Homo sapiens: one gene and its partner. The protein of the gene in region 2 purifies or fractionates together with the protein of the main gene of each other region. This does not show direct contact. Each region holds a gene or a part of one and is shown on either strand. Other genes may lie near its edges.

Region 1 (3,818 bases), on a different chromosome or scaffold from region 2:
CCCAGCCCTTCTCCAACCCTGAAGCCCACAGCAGGGGTGCAGAGGCAGCCCCAGATCGTGCAGACATCACCCGAGGCTCCCAAACTGGCCCAGCTGCCTGAGGCCTGCATGCCTGTGGCCAGGTAGGACACATGTGCAGGTTTGAAAACTAGGCCTACAAGACTGAAGAGTGGACTGAAGCAAAAAGGGGAGAAACATTAGAGGCCTACAGTAGGAAGAGACCTTTTATAGAGTTTTCAGGAAATTCTCACAATAAACTTGGGCACAAAGACCAAATTGCTGAGGCCAGAAGCCTGCTTATGGTACTGTGACTTATGGGGAGTAGAGGCCAAATCAGAGAGGGCTGGCTGGTGATACCCCAGACCACTTGCCTCTTCCCCTTCCCTGGCCTACAAATACCAGGCCTCCTGGCCCTGAGACCTCATTCTGGGTTTCTATATGGGTCAACCAAATGCCATCCTTTCACTAAACCCAGGTGCAAAATGGGGGGGGAAGGGGGGAAGCTGGGGAGTACACAGCACCCAAAAGAACCGAGAGAGCAAGTTTTCCAAGGCTACAGGAACATTGGCAGAGCTGGTGGCCACACCAGATGGGAGTACCACATCCCCACCAGGCTTCATGCTTCACTGCTAGATGCAGGGGGCTAGAAGGGTCTGATGAATCAGGAGCTGAACTAGAACCTTCAAGAAAAGAAAAGGCAAGGGGGTGGCTCTGTGCCCCGCCAGGAGAGGAAAGAAGAATGTGTGTGGATTGTCCACAGTGAGGCCAGAAACGATGAGATGGTGTTAGGCAGAAAAGAAGGGAGAGGGCTTCCCATGAGAATCTGGCTGGGCATGGGAGGGATACAGGGCTCAGTTATCAAGGCACCTTTGCCATAGTGGGGTGCCAGCTACATTGGGTGGGATGCCCAGGGGCTGTCCCTACCTAAGCACTTTCTTGTCTACAGGAAGTCTTGGTGCTTTTCAAGTTCAGCATAAGGGGTTCCATATGTGAAGTGGGGATTCACACTTAGAAAATCTATCCTGGTCTTCACCTGAAACACTCATCTACTGCTGGGTGGCAGGAACAAGTATACAAAACCAGGGGCCTTGCCTGGGCAGTTCCTAAGGGACATTGGCAGGGCTGACCTGGGATTCAGCTCCCCTGAGTGGACAGTCTGTGGTTGCCTGGGGTCCCCAGGCTGAGAAGGGGTATGGGTAATTGCACTTCGGGGCACAGTGAACACAGGCACGGGCTGGATGTGCCCTGGGAGACAGAAAGGAGAGGCTGACCTATTCTCAGGAGCTGGCTATGGCTGGACAGTGCCTGCCCGGCCAGAGGAAGGCCACAGCAGAGCCACTCCACAGACTAAGACCTGTGTTGCCAAGGAATCAGACACTGGCTTGGAGGAGACAGGAGGACAAAGCCTGCTGCTATTAAGCCCACACCGTAGCTTAGAGATCCTTCAGCCTCCTGGCCTTCAAAACAAACTCCAGGGCTTCCACTCTGAAAGGCAAAGGAATCACCTCGTGTTTGCTTCATCCCCTTAGCAGGATGAACGAAACGCCTAAGGCCCAAAAAGACTGAGGGCAGGACCCCCAGCATCTCCCATCTCCTCCGTGCAGGCTGGGTGAGAGAATGGCCTGGAAAGGAAGCATCTGCGCTACATTGTGCTTCAGGCCCCCCCAGCAACTTTCCCGGAGGTAACTATTTGCCTGGAAAACTAGGAAACTGGGTTTTAAAAACAGAATTTTAAGCAGACTTTTTAGAGGGACAAGGCCATTTGATGGTAGTGATTTTGGTTTTGTTTTATGAAAATGGTACAGGTGGTAATCCCTGATGACAGAATGCACTGAGAGTGGGGCCAAGGGCCCTGAAGGATCCTGTCTGTTCAGTCTGGTTAAGGCGACAGCTGGGCGGGCATGTGGCCGGGGAGCAGTGGCACAGCGGACCCTGGCAGTTTGCTCACACCTGGCCCTCGTCCCAGAGCCAGCCCACCTGCCTCTTGGCCCTGGTAGTGACTCCACAGAACTTCCCCGAGCAGAAGCCTCACAGTGGGCCAGCACCCATCTTGCATGCAAGGGAGAACCTGCATGCAGTGCACACACCCCGGCCAGGGTGGCACATGGCTGCTCTTTCAATGTGAAGCCAACACCAACTGGAGAGATTTAACTATAAAGGAATATTTTTTAAATATTCAGTTTTGTTGTCATTACTCACTTCCTTTCCTTCCATTTCGATCTCAGAAACTGTTCTTTTTCAGTGTTGACAAAAAAGAAATGTATGGGCCAGGTCTACAAAGTAACACCTTGTCATAAAACAGGCTCAAAAGCATAGGAATCATGCTTTAATTGCCATTTAGCATCCACTAATTCCCATGAGATCTGTGATTAAAAAAAAAGCCTCTGGCCTGCTTGTCCTGTCTTAAAAGTCATGAGTCTGTTTTATGAACAGAAAGAATGCCACGCTTCTTAGCATATGTAAGGCAAAATGGATTTTTGATCTCTCATGATGTAAAGGAGATACAAAGGTAAGGAAGGGAAGATTTCTAAGTGAGACTTTTTTTGAGTGTCAATCCCGCTGGACACACATATTACAAAATAAAGATTTTCTTCTGTAAAGTGCTGTTTGCTCAGTGAATCATGCGCCACCACAGAGCACCATGGCTCCACCTGCTCAAGAGCATGGAGGAGGCAGCATCGGCAGAGGGCAGGCAGGAGTCTGTGTTTGGGGGTCTGTTTCAATACCATCTCCTGGGGTTCGCCGTGATGCAGAGGGAATCTTCTCGTCATGGCTAGACACTCCCCAATGCTCTGCTCCAGGCTGGGGACCACTGCAAGCTGGAGGCGGCTGGGTATCAGGGCCTGGGCACCCCTGCTCCTCCTCTTCCCTTGGGATTGGCATTTTATTCTCTCATTCAGCTCAAGACCATGGGCAGGAACTCTGCTGGCTCCCCATGATGTCATCATGGGGTCTTCCACTTTCCCACAGAGCTGCCAGGCAGAGGCAGGACCCAGGCATGCCTGGCCCACAGGAAGGTTTTCTAGGAGACTAAGGAGGGTTTAGAAAAAGAGAAGCCACTATAAATAGTCACCTGTCCAGTCTATGCTATTAAAGGACATAAGAAAGGTATACAATTGGCAGTAAACAATTTCCTTCAGCTCTTCATGGATGTCCAGGAAAATGACAACCCGCACACAATCAGACGTGAATGATTTCTGCTCCAGTGTCTTCAGGCTCTGTGCAACAAGAAGAGTTTGTGTCGGAATGACAGATTCCATATCCATGTTTATTTTCAAAGTTGGGCTCTGTTAGTGGAGATTTTTCAAAAATATTCTTTTTGCTTGTTTCTGGACAGTTTTGAACATAGATCACTCTATTATAGGCCTTGAGTCTCTTCCACAATTGCACATACACTTTACACTGAACATACATAAAAAGAAGTCCTCCGGTGAAGCCGATGGCCACAACCACCAATTTAGTCCAAAAGGGCCATTCTAGGATTCCTGGAAGGGAAAAACTCAGCCTATTAGATTTTATTTAAGATATGAAGTAAAGAAAAACACAACTTCTGAACTTCCCATAATCAACTGATTCTTTGTTGTTGTTGTTGTTTTTTAAGAGATGGAGTCTTGCTATGTTGCCCAGGCTGGAGTGCAGTGGCTATTCACAGGTGTGATCATGGCACACTACAGCCTTGAACTCCTGAGCCTCAGCAATCCTCCATCCCTCAGCCTCAAGTATCTGGGGACCACAAGCCTGCACCACTGACCAATGGATTCACAACTCATCCAATGTTGCTCAGTCAAAGAAGAGTGGAAGACAGTGTCCAGCTACTT
Region 2 (3,818 bases):
GACAATATTGGGAAAATGGGCACAACGTGATATAACGTTAAATTTCCTGGCCGGGCGCGGAAGCTCACACCTGTAATTGCAGCACTTTGGGAGGCAGAGGCGGGAGGATCACAAGTTCAGGAGTTCGAGACCAGCCTGGCCAATATGGTGAAACCCTGTTTCTACTAAAACTACAAAAATTAGCAGGGCGTAGTGGCAGGCACCTGTAGTCCCAGCTACTTGGAAGGCTGAGGCAGGAGAATCGCTTGAAACCGGCAGGCGCAGGTTGCAGTGAGCTGAGATCACGCCACTGCACGCCAGCCTGGGTGACAGAGCGAGACTCCGTCTAAAAAAAAAAAAAAAAATTTTTCCTAAATTTGATCGTTGTATAGTGGTTTATATAAAAGAATGCCTTTTGTTCTTAGGAAAACATACACTGAAGTACTTAGGGGTAAAGGGGCCTGATGTCTACAACTTGCTCTCATGTGCTTCTGGGAAAAATATTTATACATGCATAGATACACTGATGTAAAGCACACACACATATTCATCCACACATACACATATAAAAAGCAAATGTGCCAAAATGTTAATTGGTGAATCTGAGTGAAGTGTATTCCCAGAATCTCTGTGCTATTCTTGCAACTCTATTTCAAGTAACTTTATTTTTCAGAAATATAAAAAAGCATTTAGACTTGCTTTTTCTAATGGTGTAGGATGGAAGATTTGAGCCACCAACTGTGCAAGAATATGATGCATTTAATTGCACTTACGTCCGCAAACTTTTACTATCATAAGGTTTTTCTCTTGCTTTGTGTTTTAGTTCAATGATGATCCAGCTATAAAGTAAAAAGACAATGTCAGTTGACTATAACTCAGTCTTCCATACTATTTTCCTAATAAGCTAATCCTAAAATTCTCGAATTATAAGGACTAAGAGAAAAAAAATTTATGCAGTAGCTATTCCTATAATTTCTTCCCTTACACATCCTTCATAAAGGACACACCCAGGAGGGAACACCTTTTCTAATATTGACCCTCTGTTCTCTGGACACAATACATAAAGTCACATTAAGTCAAAGTTTAGCTGGCAGTGTCATGCCCTGTTCAACTAAAAAGATGAAAAGGCATGAAAGGCCCGGGCATGGTGGCTCACAACTGTAATCCAACACTTTGGGAGGTGGAGGTGGGTGGATTGCCTGAGGTCAGGAGTTGGAGACCAGCCTGGCCAACATGGTGAAACCCCATCTCTACTAAAATACAAAAATTAGTCAGGTGTGGTATAGCTGTAGTCCCAGCTACTCAGGAGGCTAAGGCAGGAGAGTTGCTTGAACCCGGGAGGCAGAGGTTGCAGTGAGCTGAGATTGTGCCACTGCACTCCAACCTGGGCAACAAGAGTGGAAATTCCATCTCGAAAAAAAAAGAAAAGAAAAGAAAAAAGAAAAAACAAAAGAAAGGGCACAAAGAGAAAACTGACAACGAGGCTCCAGAAGACCAGAACAGAAAAACAAAGTGCCCACTTTGGTCCTGACATCCTTTCCAGTTTCTAGTCCCTTCCAATGAAGTCTTTTTTTGCTTAAGCTAGCTTGAGTGGGTTTCTGTGCCTTTTCATTAAACAATCCCTAAAACAAGCATATCTCACTTTTAAAACACAATCAATAAGCAAATACATAGGTTAAATTACATACATTTACTACTAATGCAACAATGAAATACTGAATAATGTTAAGTAAAGATATAAAAGAAAAATTATACCTAGTATGCTATCATTTATGTAAAAATAATAAAACAGATATATAACAAATTCATCAACTATCTCTGGAAGGTTATAGAATAATCAATAACATCAATTCTGTGGAGGTCCAATGGGTAGCGAGGGGGACTGGAATGAGAAGGAAGCTTTTCACTGGACACTCATATCTTCTGAATTCTAAACCATGAAATCATATTACATAATCAAAAATAAATTTAATTAAATGAATCTGAACAGCATGAAAACAAGTAGTATAGGCAGCCCCACTCACTAGGTTCTCACTCGCTCAGAGCAGGTTATTTCAGTGTCCTTGTCTGTTCTTCTGACCCCAGCAGTGTTCACACACCAGCACATGGAGGTGCCGTTGCACTGCTTGGCCTTAAAGAGCCCGCTCTCATCGCAGTCAGGATCATAAAGCCCATCATTGTTCTGGAGGGCCCCTTCAGGTTTTGCTCTTCTCCCAAGTTTTGAGCCATTCATTTCTGCCTTCATCACCAAACATTTGGCAGCCACTGAAAAAGAAACCTTAATGCCAAACTGAAAAATAACTGATTTCATGATTACGGGAAAAAAAAAATTAACTCTAAAGTTCCAGGGTCAAAGATTATTTGAAATTTATGTGTTCCCACACTTACTTTGTAACATGATTCAGATTTAAGCCAATAAAACTCTTTCCAACTCAAGGCACATCAATTAAAGAAGTATTAAGTCAAAATAAAGCTTACAGGTAATTAGGATATTTTACTCACGCTTTGAGCAAATGACAGTATTTTGTGCACCAACTGAAGTACACTGGCATTGACGATTATTATTCACAAAGCAGTTTACGGCCAGCTTGTAGTTTTCACAGACACATTCTAGAAAATTAAAAAAAAAATCTACTTTAAAATGTGGATCTATTAACTCTCATGTCCCAGCTAAGTTATATTGTAATAATAATGCCTAAAGTTACAAGGACACAAAACCTTAAAAAGTGGTTCTGAATGTTTTATTTTTCAGCTATAGACTACTGCCTAAGTGCCTGGCACTTGCTAAAGTTTGCATACTGTATACAGACACATAGTTTAATCTGCATGCATTCCTGTTTTTTTTTTTTTTTTTTTTTTTTTTTTTTAAAGATAGGGTCTCACTCTGTGGCCCAGGCTGGAATGCAGTGGCACAATCTTGGTTTACTGCAGCATGGACCTACAGGGCTCAAGTGATCCTCCTGTCTCAGCCTCCCAAGTAGCTGGGACTACAGCCATGCACCACCATGCCTGGCTAATTTTTAACTTTTTGTAGATACGGGGTTTCGCCATGTTGCCCAGGCTGGTTTTGAACTCCTGGCCTCAAGCAATCCTCCTGCCTCAGCCTCCCAAAGTGCTGGGATTACAGGCATGAGCCACTGTGCCTGGCCTCCTGTTACAATTTTTTTAAAACAAGAACACAGCTCTCCAAGTATCATTTCTAGCTTTGTCTTTGTGAAACTCCCAGTCTTAGCTCCTTCCACAGTCCTGTCCTGCTAAGTAACATCCCTGTTAGTCACTGCCTTTTTTTGTTTTTCTTCTTGAGACAGAGTCTCACTCTGTCGTGCAGGCTGGATTGCAGTGGTACAATCGCAGCTCACTGCAACATCCATCTCCCAGGATCAAGCGATTCTCCTGCCTCAGCCTCCCAAGTAGCTGGGACTACAGGGGTATGCCACCACACCTGGCTAATTTTTGTATTTTTAGTAGAGACGGGGTTTCAGCATAATGGCCAGGCTGATCTCAAACTCCTGACCTCATGATCCGTCCGCCTCGGCCTACCAAAGTGCTGGGATTACAGGTGTCAGCCACCGCGCCCGGCTTTTTTTTTCTATTTTTAGTAGAGACGGGTTTTCACCATGTTGGTCAGGCTGGTCTAGGACTCCTGACCTCAGGTAACCCACCCACCTCGGCCTCCTAAAGTGCTGGGATTACAGACGTGAGCCACCATGCCCGGCTGTCACCGCCTCTTTTACAAAAAAAAATCAACTATTCCAATTCTAGGATCTGTGAATCCTCACCTTCTCTTGCTCTCCCACCCCATTTTCTTAAATGAGGGATGTTTCCTTTGGGGCTTAACA

Evidence for each region.
Region 1: the proteins of EPCAM (region 2) and MARCHF8 purify together in Homo sapiens (affinity purification with western blotting; one study listed by BioGRID). This does not show direct contact.

The regions. Positions count from the first base shown.
Region 1 is NC_000010.11:45,455,059-45,458,876, forward strand, and holds part of MARCHF8 (E3 ubiquitin-protein ligase MARCHF8), read right to left. Parts: intron 3,486-3,818; coding exon 3,181-3,485; 3' UTR 1-3,180. UniProt on the Homo sapiens protein: E3 ubiquitin-protein ligase that plays several important roles in innate immunity and adaptive immunity.
Region 2 is NC_000002.12:47,372,234-47,376,051, reverse strand, and holds part of EPCAM (epithelial cell adhesion molecule precursor), read right to left. Parts: intron 2,590-3,818; coding exon 2,482-2,589; intron 2,245-2,481; coding exon 2,004-2,244; intron 819-2,003; coding exon 753-818; intron 1-752.